3 linked regions of the Homo sapiens genome follow. The protein of the gene in region 3 purifies or fractionates together with the protein of the main gene of each other region. This does not show direct contact. Each region holds a gene or a part of one and is shown on either strand. Other genes may lie near its edges.

Region 1 (3,651 bases), on a different chromosome or scaffold from region 3:
CGTGTGTGTGTATATATATGTATGTATATATAAGTGTATATATATGTATGTGTGTATATATATATATATATATACACACACATATTTACTGGCTTTAAAAGGTCTAAAAGAACTTTCACCAAACAGTACAATGGATCTCACTGCATGATGGGCTTATGTATGGATTATTACTTTTTTAATAAACAGTTAAAGCTTTGCAATAAGGAAAAAAAAATTGCATAATCCTAAATCTTTAATTGTCTTATCAATACAGGTTGTCTCTTTCATTAAAGACTGAGAGTTTAAAATGCAGAATTCACCCAGAGAAGACAGCCTTGATTCTAAGTAGTTGGGAGGGTTGCAGGAATAGAGAAAATACAGCCCACTATGCAAAAGCCTTCACAGGAGACAGACAACATGAAATTGGCTGAACCAGAGGCTCCAGTTCTAATGACTTGGCCAAGCCTCAAGGGTTCCACACACATTCCTTCCAGGCTGGTATCTGACCTACCCTGTGATCAATCTTTGGTCCCCTCAATAATTCCCTCTCCTTCCTACAGCCTTTCTCCTTCCATATTATCTCCACAACCTAGCGTATTCCTACTGCTCAGAAAAGCTACTGTGGCATTTTGATGGTGGGGAGAGTCAAAGCCTCCTGCAGCTGTGACCTCCAATGAACAGAAAGGTATGAGGGTCATCACAGCAAAGAATGTTAGGCTCACTGACACAATACATTCCACAGATACTCCACACTTGTAGCCAAGTACCTTCGAATGGGAAGTCTCTCCCATGTTTAGAGACAGTTCATTTAGGAGCTGAGAGATTTCTCTCTATAACCATAATTGAGTTCTCTCTTTCGGCACAAGGGCTGTGTACTTTAATGCTCATGCCATGACTGGATATATAAAGACAAGAAGAAAGTCTGGAAATGCTCTGAAACTGGCTGTAGTTAGGGAAAGGTCCCACAACTTTCAAAGAGATTTGGGACCCTCAACAATGAAAAAAGCATTTCCTGCAGAAGTAAACTAACTCACTAATTGTTTTTCTTCTCCAAGATGCCTTCTGATATCCATATATTACTACTAGCATTAGTACTTCTTATAAATGAAAACAGTGGGCTGGGTATGGTGGCTCATGTCTGTAATCCCAGCACCTTGGGAGCCTTAGGCAAATGGATCACTTGAGCCTAGAAGTTGGAGATCAGCCTGGGCAGACCCCAACGCTACGAAAATTTTTTTAAAAATTAGCCTTGCACATTGGCATGTGCCCATAGTCCCAGCTACTCAGGAGGCTGAGGTCAGAATGCAGCTTGAGCCCGAGAGGTCAAGGCTGCAGTGAGCTGTGATCATGCCACTGCATTCCAGTCTGGATGACAGCCAGATCCTGTCTCAAATTAATAAAAAAAGAAAAAGTGAATAGTGTCAAATACTGTGATGTTAAGATAAAAATATTTTAGGCAAGAATATGTTTCCTGCCATGGAGTTGACTCTTACTTCTTAAAATGTACTACAGTTTCTGATCACCAGTAACTCTCCAATGACAAATGTGCATTAAAACATTGTTTTATTTCAAAGTTTCCTCCTCCCCAGAAGGCCAATATTTAGTCTAGGCTTAAGAGAGGAGACCCAAAGTACCTCCACCCGGGTTCCAAACCAAATGAAGGTTTGATGGGCTGGAGACTGAGCATTCTCAGGCATTTACCTGTCGTGGATACAGGTATATACTCTGTATCTGTGAGCCAATGAGAAGCAAGAATGCTGAGGCCCTTTTGCCCCACAACAGCCTCAGACTATGGTACACTTACTGAATACGTCCCTCCCACAATTACTAAAACTATGAGACCTAGAAATACCAGAGGGAGAGGGAGACAGGACCTAGGGGCTGAGACTTCAGTGATGCTGTGAGAAGTCACATGGCCAGGTAAAGAATACATAGTACCCAAAAGGTCTGAAGTTTAGTTGTCACTCTGCCATTGATCTGCTATGAGCTCCAGAAAAACCCACAGCCTTTCTGGGTTCAGTGTTTTCATTTGGTAGCATAACATAAAGGAATTATACCGGAATGCTCTGATGTTTCCTCAGGTCTCAAATGTTATTTAGTCCAGCCAACCTCATCCCACTCTTATTATATTGATCAAAATACTGTTCATAGCATAATTTCACAATAAATAAATTAATAAGCAAATTGTTTCATTGCTTCATGTTCTAAGAAGATTAAAAAAAAAAAGGTGAGAAAGTCAATTCCGTACTTTTGGAAATGAATATTTGGAAGTTTGGAAGTACTTCAGTAATTTTTCTAGGCTACAACTAAGCACAATACCAACAAAACATAGAGACTCAAATCAAAATGCATTAGGTTTCCAGAACTTGGAGAATTACAGTTTCTTTTTAATATCTTCTCCTTATAAAGCCTGTCAAACACTAAAATTCTGTTGACCATTTTTTATTTTTCTATATTAAAAGAATGCTGAGGTACAAATGTATGAGAAAATTAATATTTGGTTTTTATTTATTTGTATTTTATTTATTTTCTTTTTTGTAAATGGTCTCAGATACTTTCTTTTGCTAAATGGTGTGATACAGATAAATCCAATAAATATAATAATTTACTTAATTCATTATCATCAGGAAGGCCTGGAATTAAAATTCTTGATTTTGAGTTTATAACGGTTTCATTTCACTTATTACCTCTACATATGATCATTTTAAATGTCAGACTAATTGAACTACTGAATTGAATGCAGGCTATTAGCATTAAATGAGACTCATGCAATAGAATATAAAGGTATTACACTGTCCCTATTTTGTGCACTGTTTAATAATCTTAGGTACTTAGAATTTTTAGATGTGTTTCTAATAAATATTTTTGTAGATACGTCTTGACACAAGTGTTATAAATGTTTCTTACAGATATAAAGATCATTTCAAAGTTTACTCTCATAGATTTCTGATACGTGTAAATTCCAATGTAGCTCATAACCATCCAAATATTTCAAGTCTCAGAAATGCAGATTACAATAGTCACTGTTACCCTGAGATTTTCAAAGCTGATTTTCTACCAGTGATCAGTGGGGCCATACATATATTTCTACTGCAAATATTCTGGAAGGCTCTGCTCTCTGGAATTCCCATTCCACACTGATCCAATAAAATCTGACTTTACAGATTTTCAACACGTACCATGAACCAATCCCTCCTCCTCGGCTGCTCTCCAACTCAATAATGGCAGTCACATTCATTACATTTAGTGAGTCAGACTTTCCGCCGTGCCTAAGTCACTCCCAGCTAGTATGGCAGGTGTGTGATGAGTGACGTTAGCTGTTTCAGGAGTCTAAAAAACCGTGTAAGTTTAAAGCAGCCATGGTAATGCCCTACTGGCCTGAAAGAGTAAACCCACCCTCCATTAATGCCTCACATATGACTTCTGTGTTGGAGAGAAAAGAATGCAGAACATGTTCTTTTAAAAAATAAAGCAAAGGCTTATTATAATCAGAGGATTTGTTCAAAATATTTATAAGTCACTTTAAATAACACAGTTGTTTCCTATTTTTGCCATTGGAAATAGTGGGATGTTAAGGTAGAAAAAATAAGAAGAAATTAGTCTTTATGACACTGGAGATTTCATCTCTTTTTTAAAAACTGCCCAGAAATAACATTAAGCATCTATCTCAAA
Region 2 (3,751 bases), on a different chromosome or scaffold from region 3:
CCTTGACTCAGTTGACCTCCTACCCCTCACAGCAGGGTAAAGACTTGCACATCACTGACAGGCGGCTCGGAGTCAGCCTTGGAGTCGGCCTTCCATGCCCAGCCCTGAGGCCACCATGCCACGTTCCAGTTGGCTCAAGCAGTGAGGGGCAAAACCAGCTCCAGGGCCAGGTGGAAGGGCTGCTTCTCTCCTGCCTCCATCAAATGCTGACCTTGCCTCTGAATGACCAAGCAAAACAAAGGAATAAATGAATGAATAAAAATTTTGACCTGTTAATTCCTTAAGACCTTGATACGTATTCGTGGGTAAGCAATTTTATACTATTTTATAAAACTGTTTTCAGCTGTTTTAGTCAGGGTCGGGTGCCAGGCACCTAGACACCCCCCTCCCCATTCCCAGGAAGGTTTTGGCCAAACCTGCATCCACCACCTTGGCATGCCAACGCATTCGAGGCCCTGGCAGGCCCCGACTCAACAGAACCGTCTCGCCCTCTACAGCCACCACAGCCACGTGGGCCAATACCCAGCACGCGCCCCACTGCCCCAAGCCTCTCTGCCGGCGTGGCTCTCCCCCAACCTCACTCTCAATACAAAAGGGACAGCACCGAAAGAACAAGGGAGGCCGGAATGGTGGCATTATTCAATCAAATATACAGAGTGCTTCCTTTAATATGTACACATTTACAAAAATGCACTTTCACGAGGAGGGGCGGCCGGGGCCGGCAGGTGGGCAGCGCCTGGTGCCACGGCACGCGTGGACAGTTGCGAGGGGTCTGTGTGAAGGCACTTGTCACGAGCTTCAATACTGCCGCCGTCCCAGGATGGGAGAACTGCGCAGCAGGAAGGGCACTTCTGAAAGCACAGTGGAGAGATCGCTGGAGCGGGCGTTCTGGGCAGGAGGAAGCACAGACGGCAGGCAGGGTGGACTGGCCAGCAAGCGCGAGGTTGACCTGCCAGCCTTGGGCCACGCCGATGACCTCAGGCCCCACTAACAACCACAGGTGCGTCAACAGCCACGGGCCGTGCCGGCAGCCAGGGCCACATCAATAACCAGGGTCCCACCGACCACCGTAGGTCCCACCGACAGCCACAGGTCCCATTGACAGCCACGAGTCCCACCGACAGCCACAGGCCACACCATCAGCCACGGGTCCCACCAACAGCCATGGGCCACACCAACACAGCCATGGGTCTCACCGGCACTTTGGCCTGGAGCCACAGAGAAACCCGAGTGAGGAATAAAAGGAAGATTCTGTAAACAGTGCACAACCTCTGGTAACAAACGCTACGATTTGGTGACGACGCAGACACCCTTTGCTCTCTCCTTTCATACAGCGAGTGCCACGCACGGAAACTTTACAAAAATAGCAACTATCCGAGAATACTCCATTGTTTTCAGCCTGACAGTTACTGAATAATTTATACAAGGTTAAAGAAACGTAGAAAATAAACATTTGGTTTTTGTTTTTGGTGGTTTTTTTACACAAAATAAAGAAACTATGCACATGGCCTCGGCCTCCGGGTCCGGCAGACGGCATGGCTCCCACCGAGGGCCCTGGGTCCCGGCCCAGCTGGCAGCCGCCCCTACTCCTTGCCGGCGTAGCGGGCCTCATTGATGCTCCTGACCGCGCGGTTGTCCACTTTGGGGCCTGAGGCCCAGTGGGCCGGCCTCCCCGGCGAGCGGCCAGGATCTTTGGTGAATTTGTGTGAGAGGAACTTCTCCGCCTCCAGGGAGTCCTCCTCACCGCGGCCCAGATCCTCGTCCTCCTCATCCTCCCTGACGGCCGCGTGGCCGGCCGGCCCGGGCAGCGCCTCGTCCGCCCTGCGCGGCGGCGGCGTGAAGTTCTTGCACTGGTAGAGCACGTCCTTGTGGCCCCCCGGCCGCTCAATGGGGTTGCGGATGGGGTTGAGCGGGGCCCACTGGTTGTTGGCGCTCTCCTCCCGCGGCAGCCGGCTCCTCTCCCGCTCTTTCCTGCGCTTGCGTGTCCACCACACGCACAGGACCACGCACGCCAGCCACAGCACGCTGAAGGCACCACACAGCACAGGCACCAGCAGACCTGGGGACCGGGGAGAAGAGCCGGTGGGCAATGAGGCCTGGGCACCTGCGGGGCACTAGCCACACACCCAGGCCTGGGAGGGCCCTGCGGGCCAGGCGGCCGGGCCCCACCCTCCGGTTGCTGGCTCGTGGGGAGGGTCCCAGGACGGGGGCTGGGAAGGTCAGGTTGTGGGGCTGGGCGGCTGGGGCAGCAGGTGCCAGGGACTTCTGTGTTCCTGGTGGCTGGCAGGATCGGCAGGATCGGCCGGCTCTGTGCCCAATGCCTGAGTTGCCTGCCTGGTGCCTTCCCAGGGGCCCACCTCCCGCGCTTACCTGTGGAAGAGCCGCCCGTAACAACCGTCTCCACCTTGACCTCGGTGACAGCCAGGAGCAGTGAGCTGTTCCCCCGCTGGGTGATGGCGGCCACGATGGCGTGGGCCGCGCCCTGGATCAGGCTGCTGTCAGGCAGGTCCCTGGCAGGGCTGAAGGACTGCGGCAAAGAACGGCATTGTGGGGATGGCTCGAGGGCTCCAGGCTCCCAGCAGCCTGCCCCCAACACTGAGGCCCTGGCCACACTGGAGCAAGGTGGGCGCACGGGAGACGAGAGCCCGGGGTCCTGCAGTGGCGACTTCACCACCAGGCAGTGAGTGGGGAGTAGCGGGGGGAGGAGTGGAGGGGTGGAGGCTGTCCCCATCCGGGCACACAGGAGAGCCCAGGGTCCTGAGGTGTGGGGACCTCACCACCAGGCAGCGAGCAGTGGGGGGAAGGGGAGGGGTGGAGGATGTCCCCATCCGGGCGCACGGGACAGCCCAGGGTCCTGCGGTGGGGACCTCACCAGCAGGCAGTGAGGGGTGGGGGGAAGTGGAGGGGTGGAGGGTGTCCCCGTCCGGGCACACAGGAGAGCCCGGGGTCCTGCGGTGGGGACCTCGCCACCAGGCAGTGAGTTGGGGAGGTGTGTGGCCCCATTCGCTGACACCTGCTCCGTGATGGCCATCCCTTCTTGTCAGTTCCCAGCCCCCACCCCCACCTATGGGCCACACCCCAGGGGCACCACAAACCTAGTGCCTTCACGAGGCCACAGCAACCCGGGGCTGTGCCCCTGCCTCCACCACATCCCTGATGGCGCCCTGACCTGTGCTGGCACACTTCTTACATCTTCCCCTGCCCCTACTGCCCTTCCATCACCCAGCAGCACCCATCCATGTCCCCCACCCCCTCTGCGGCCTCAGGGCACCAAAACACTGCACGTCCTTCCTGTGCCTGGCCATGGCCTCCACCAGCCACACTGTGCCATGGCCACACCCACTGCTCTGCACACCCACCCACCATGTTCCAGAACATTCCCTCCCCTCTCCGGGCATGTCTCCACCCCAGTCTCACCCGACCCCCTTGGTATCCATTCACATCTGACACCCCCCAGGTCCAGGGCAGGTGCCAGTCCCAAAGCAGGCCTCCCAGGGCAGACTAAGCCCACGGACTCTCCTGCTGCCTGTGACGTAGGGACACAGAGACAAAAACAGAGCAGGGGACCGGGCGAGGATGCAGCTGCAGGGGAAGCGGGCTCCACACCACAGCCCTGCATCTCCCTCATGCTGGCCAGGCCCAGGGAGCAGTTCCACGGGTCTGCGGCATGGACAGCGAGGGGCCGCAGGGAGACAGGCCTGCCCGCAGTCCTTCCGCACCAGGACTAGCCTCGCCAGAGCCTCTGTCCAGC
Region 3 (3,751 bases):
TTTCCATAGTCAACAGTTTTAGCACAAGGACTTTAGAAAATGACAGATTTTTTTGGTAAAGTTTACTGCCTGAAAAGAGTTTAATAAAGAACATCCAAGGCCTGATTGCTGTTATTCTGAATATAACTTTTAATTACTTTCTGTAAGTTACATTCGGTTACTGTCAGACAACTTACTGTTGCATGGAAAAATGCCCCAAAAAACTGCAATGGTTTACATACATTTTACATTACACGTATTACCTCTTAAAACCCCCAACAGAATAAAGTCTTAGCAAACACAAATTTTAATTTCTGAACACCCTTCCAGTAAGATTGTAAAGGTGGGAGGAAGGGGAGGAAGGACTTGTTTTTTGTATTCCTAGTCTACTTGATTAAAATGTAATCTTCCAAGGGTTTGTTTAGCTCACTATCCAGACTGCTAGGGTTATGATGAACATTATTACTTCTTTCCAGGGTAAAAAAAATGACATTTGAAAATAATGTAAATGCTATGACATGATTTTCCCAAGCATGACCTCAACTTGAAACATTAGATTACTTAAGAATTCTAAAGATTGGTATACCACCACTGCACCAGAATTTTTAATTATTCCAACAGCTACAGGAATTTTTTAATAGTTTTTTTAATTTTATGAACTTAAAGCTGAAGAAAATAACCGATTTAGAAACCATAATAAAAGGACAGATATTTAGCCAGAGATATCAGTTCCTCCTGAAAAAGGATACTGACCTCCTCTCACTGCAGTTTTTCTCCAGGTATCTTACTGATTTCAGATAGAATTTAAAATTCATCTTAAAAATAGAAACAAAAGGACTACTTAAACTGACATTAACTAATAAAAATATGCTCAAATTTACTGACAGAATCATGGACACTTCATACAATACTTAGACTCTACCAGTTTTAAGTAAAGTAAGGAAAAAATTATAATTACAAAGCCAGTCTTTCCCCTTGGGGAAACAAAAAAGCCACTTTTGACCAATTGTTCCCTGCATATACATATACTGTATATTATTATAAGCTTCTTCAGAGAAGCAAAACATCTTTGTCTTCCTGACACTGGATTATTTAGCATGTTTTTTTACATCAGGAAGGCAACTGCACTGCTTGCATTTTTCTACCAGCTGAGTGTCTGGTGATAGCTGGGTGCAAGAAGATTGTGAGTTATTTATGCAGGAGGACTGTTTGTCCTCGACCATGAAGAAAGGCAGACTTATAGCTTATCTGCTTCTTCTTTTTGCTTTCCCCTGCTGCCACCAGCCTGACTCTTTTGCCGTTAGAACTCCACAAACAGGAGTTCCTCTTCAAGCCCTCTGTATCCCTCATCCCTCCCTCATTCCTTTAGTTAAGAGCAAGGTAGGGACCTTTACCTGGTACAGCTCCGGGAGATGGGAGATAAGTGACACTGAGACTTCATACCCAGAACCCTCAACTTCACAAGAAACTTCTGCTGGGGGCCAAAAGACTCGGGACAGCAGAGCTCAAAGCAGGGCCAGAAGGTGCAGGTGGAGCCACAGCGGCGGGTCTCCTTTAAGGATAAGATGGCATCATCATAACAGCACTGCTCTGAAGGGTTGTAGATCTTGTTCCCACACCTGGGTGTCGGCTGGCACAGCCACAGTCCTGAGCCAACAGGAGCGTCTGGGGGCAGACATTGATGGTGTACATCCAAGGAAGAACAGATACTCAATTCCCAGTCTCTTTTCCCAACACCACCTCTTCCCTCCTCATTTTTCCCTGTCCTGTCCTTACCTGTAGTTCCTTTTGAACACTGGAGGAGGAAGACTGTTATCCAGCAGACAAGAGCTAAGGGAGAAAGGAAAAAGGTTGAACATGGAGCTGAGAATGTGACAAGTATGGAAAAAACAAACAAACAAACAAACAGAGGTTAGGGTGGTTTAAAGGTGGAGATTATCACTTGGGGCTAAGTCTGTATGGGATCCCGTTCAGGCAGGCCCTGAGCAGCACGCTCAGTCACCCTTTGAGGTGACTAGTAGGGCACAGGAGGCTGGAATAATGTTAGAGATAAAGAGGAATAAATCGGGTTGAGGTTTGGGAGCTGCACTGGGAATGAGATGAGATGATGTTTGGATTTGGGGTCCTACTTGCCCAAGATGCAGCATCGTGGCCTCATGCTTCCAAAGATGCTCTAGGAGAATTGAAGAAGAGTGGTAAAAGGCTGGAACTTATGGAGACAGCCTAAATGGGGTTGTCTGTTAACCTGGTAAGTTTACTGATTGGATGGCTGCTGATCATGCCACCTGCAGTCTCCCAAGCACATTCCTTGAAGATAACCAAAGTCTCCCAAGCACATTCATTAGTTTCTTTAAGGAGGAGACTGGGTGGCGTAAGGGACCACAGAGCCGAATGTTGCAGACTGACTCATTGCATTCTCCATATACTATTGCAGACCTCAGGGTGAATGAGTGTAGGTTGGTCCTACTCCAAGTTAGGCTTCTAAGAGTTTTCAAGCTCCGACATTGAGGAGACAGTGCCCAACTAAGCTCCAATCAGAGAGAATGCTTCAGCCACTTCCCCATCTGGTTTCACATCCTCCCCTTCCTAATACTTGCTTCTTCTATATTCCCCAAGCACGATGTCTCTGGAAATGTCAAGGGGACCGTTTATGAAGCCACTTTATTTTTTGCTCTGGAGTCATTAGAGTTGCCACCTGCTCTAGCAGTTGAGCCACGGCTCTGGAAACTCCAATAAAGGGGGTAGGGGTGGAGAATAGCAATGGCCCAAATCTCCTGGTGTGCTTGGTGTGAGGATTCAGAGACCTCCAGCATCTTAGTTACATGGTCAGGGAAAGTACTAAACACCTGCTTTTCATAATCATATTATATTAGTGGCCAATGATAAGTGATGTAGTACTTAGGAGTGTGTAGTACTTAGGTGTGCAGACAGAGGGAAGGGCAGGGCAAACTGAGGCCTGCCAGGCAAGTGCCAGCTAGGGAAGGGCTTGGACAAATTCAAATAATCCCGAAGCTGTGGAAAGGACCTCAGTCTTCATGGATGTGTGATGATTCAATCAGAAAATGTCTAAGGATTGGCCAGACTTTCCATCCTCCACTTGCTGGCACAGCATAGGGAAGAGTTGCTGACTTAAGTTCATCCAGCCTGTACCATAGCCTTTGAAATGGTTCTCCTTTTCTGAGCTTCATTCTTAGCTTCCTGTACATGTGCGGAGGTGTGGGGTGTGGTTTGGATGCACAAGGCTGCTCTCCCCTACCCCGGAACCTAAGAAGGCCAACAATGTGAAGATTCCTAGTGAGCCCAGGCTGTCAGCTTGTTTACTACCAAATGTTAAAAAGAAACGTTTGAGTTTGATTAGGTAAAATACAAAGGACAAATAATAATATCTTTAATATACAATTATCATTCTTATTCCAAATGAAACTTCAGCTTTACTATTGGGCATTGGGAAGTTAATGTGTACTTAATTTTTCATCTTACAGAAGTGGCAAGGGGCAGCTTGAAGGGATAATTTTTAATGCATTTTATAATGATAATCATTTAGAGAAATCCTTATGTTGTATCTCATTAACACTAAGATGTTATTGAAAGATACACTGTTGTTTTGCAACTCTAAGATGCAATCTCATCACTTAGAATGTTTATTAACAGAGCTTCTTGCAACATGTTGAGACGTAGACTTTTGGAAGGCGAATAGAAAAATAAAAATATATGGGAAATAAATCTGTTAAAGATTTCTTAAAATGTCTCCACATTTGGAGACTGCCTCCTG

What was found.
Region 1: the proteins of IGFL3 (region 3) and FBN2 purify together in Homo sapiens (affinity purification with mass spectrometry; one large-scale study listed by BioGRID and IntAct). This does not show direct contact.
Region 2: the proteins of IGFL3 (region 3) and JAG2 purify together in Homo sapiens (affinity purification with mass spectrometry; one large-scale study listed by BioGRID and IntAct). This does not show direct contact.

The regions. Positions count from the first base shown.
Region 1 is NC_000005.10:128,531,669-128,535,319, forward strand, and holds part of FBN2 (fibrillin-2 precursor), read right to left. Parts: intron 1-3,651.
Region 2 is NC_000014.9:105,141,112-105,144,862, forward strand, and holds part of JAG2 (protein jagged-2 isoform a precursor), read right to left. Parts: intron 2,528-3,751; coding exon 2,371-2,527; intron 2,060-2,370; coding exon 1,584-2,059; 3' UTR 1-1,583. UniProt on the Homo sapiens protein: Putative Notch ligand involved in the mediation of Notch signaling. Involved in limb development.
Region 3 is NC_000019.10:46,122,513-46,126,263, forward strand, and holds the start of IGFL3 (insulin growth factor-like family member 3 precursor), read right to left. Parts: upstream 2,177-3,751; 5' UTR 2,138-2,176; coding exon 2,113-2,137; intron 1,810-2,112; coding exon 1,756-1,809; intron 1,645-1,755; coding exon 1,374-1,644; intron 1-1,373. UniProt on the Homo sapiens protein: Potential ligand of the IGFLR1 cell membrane receptor.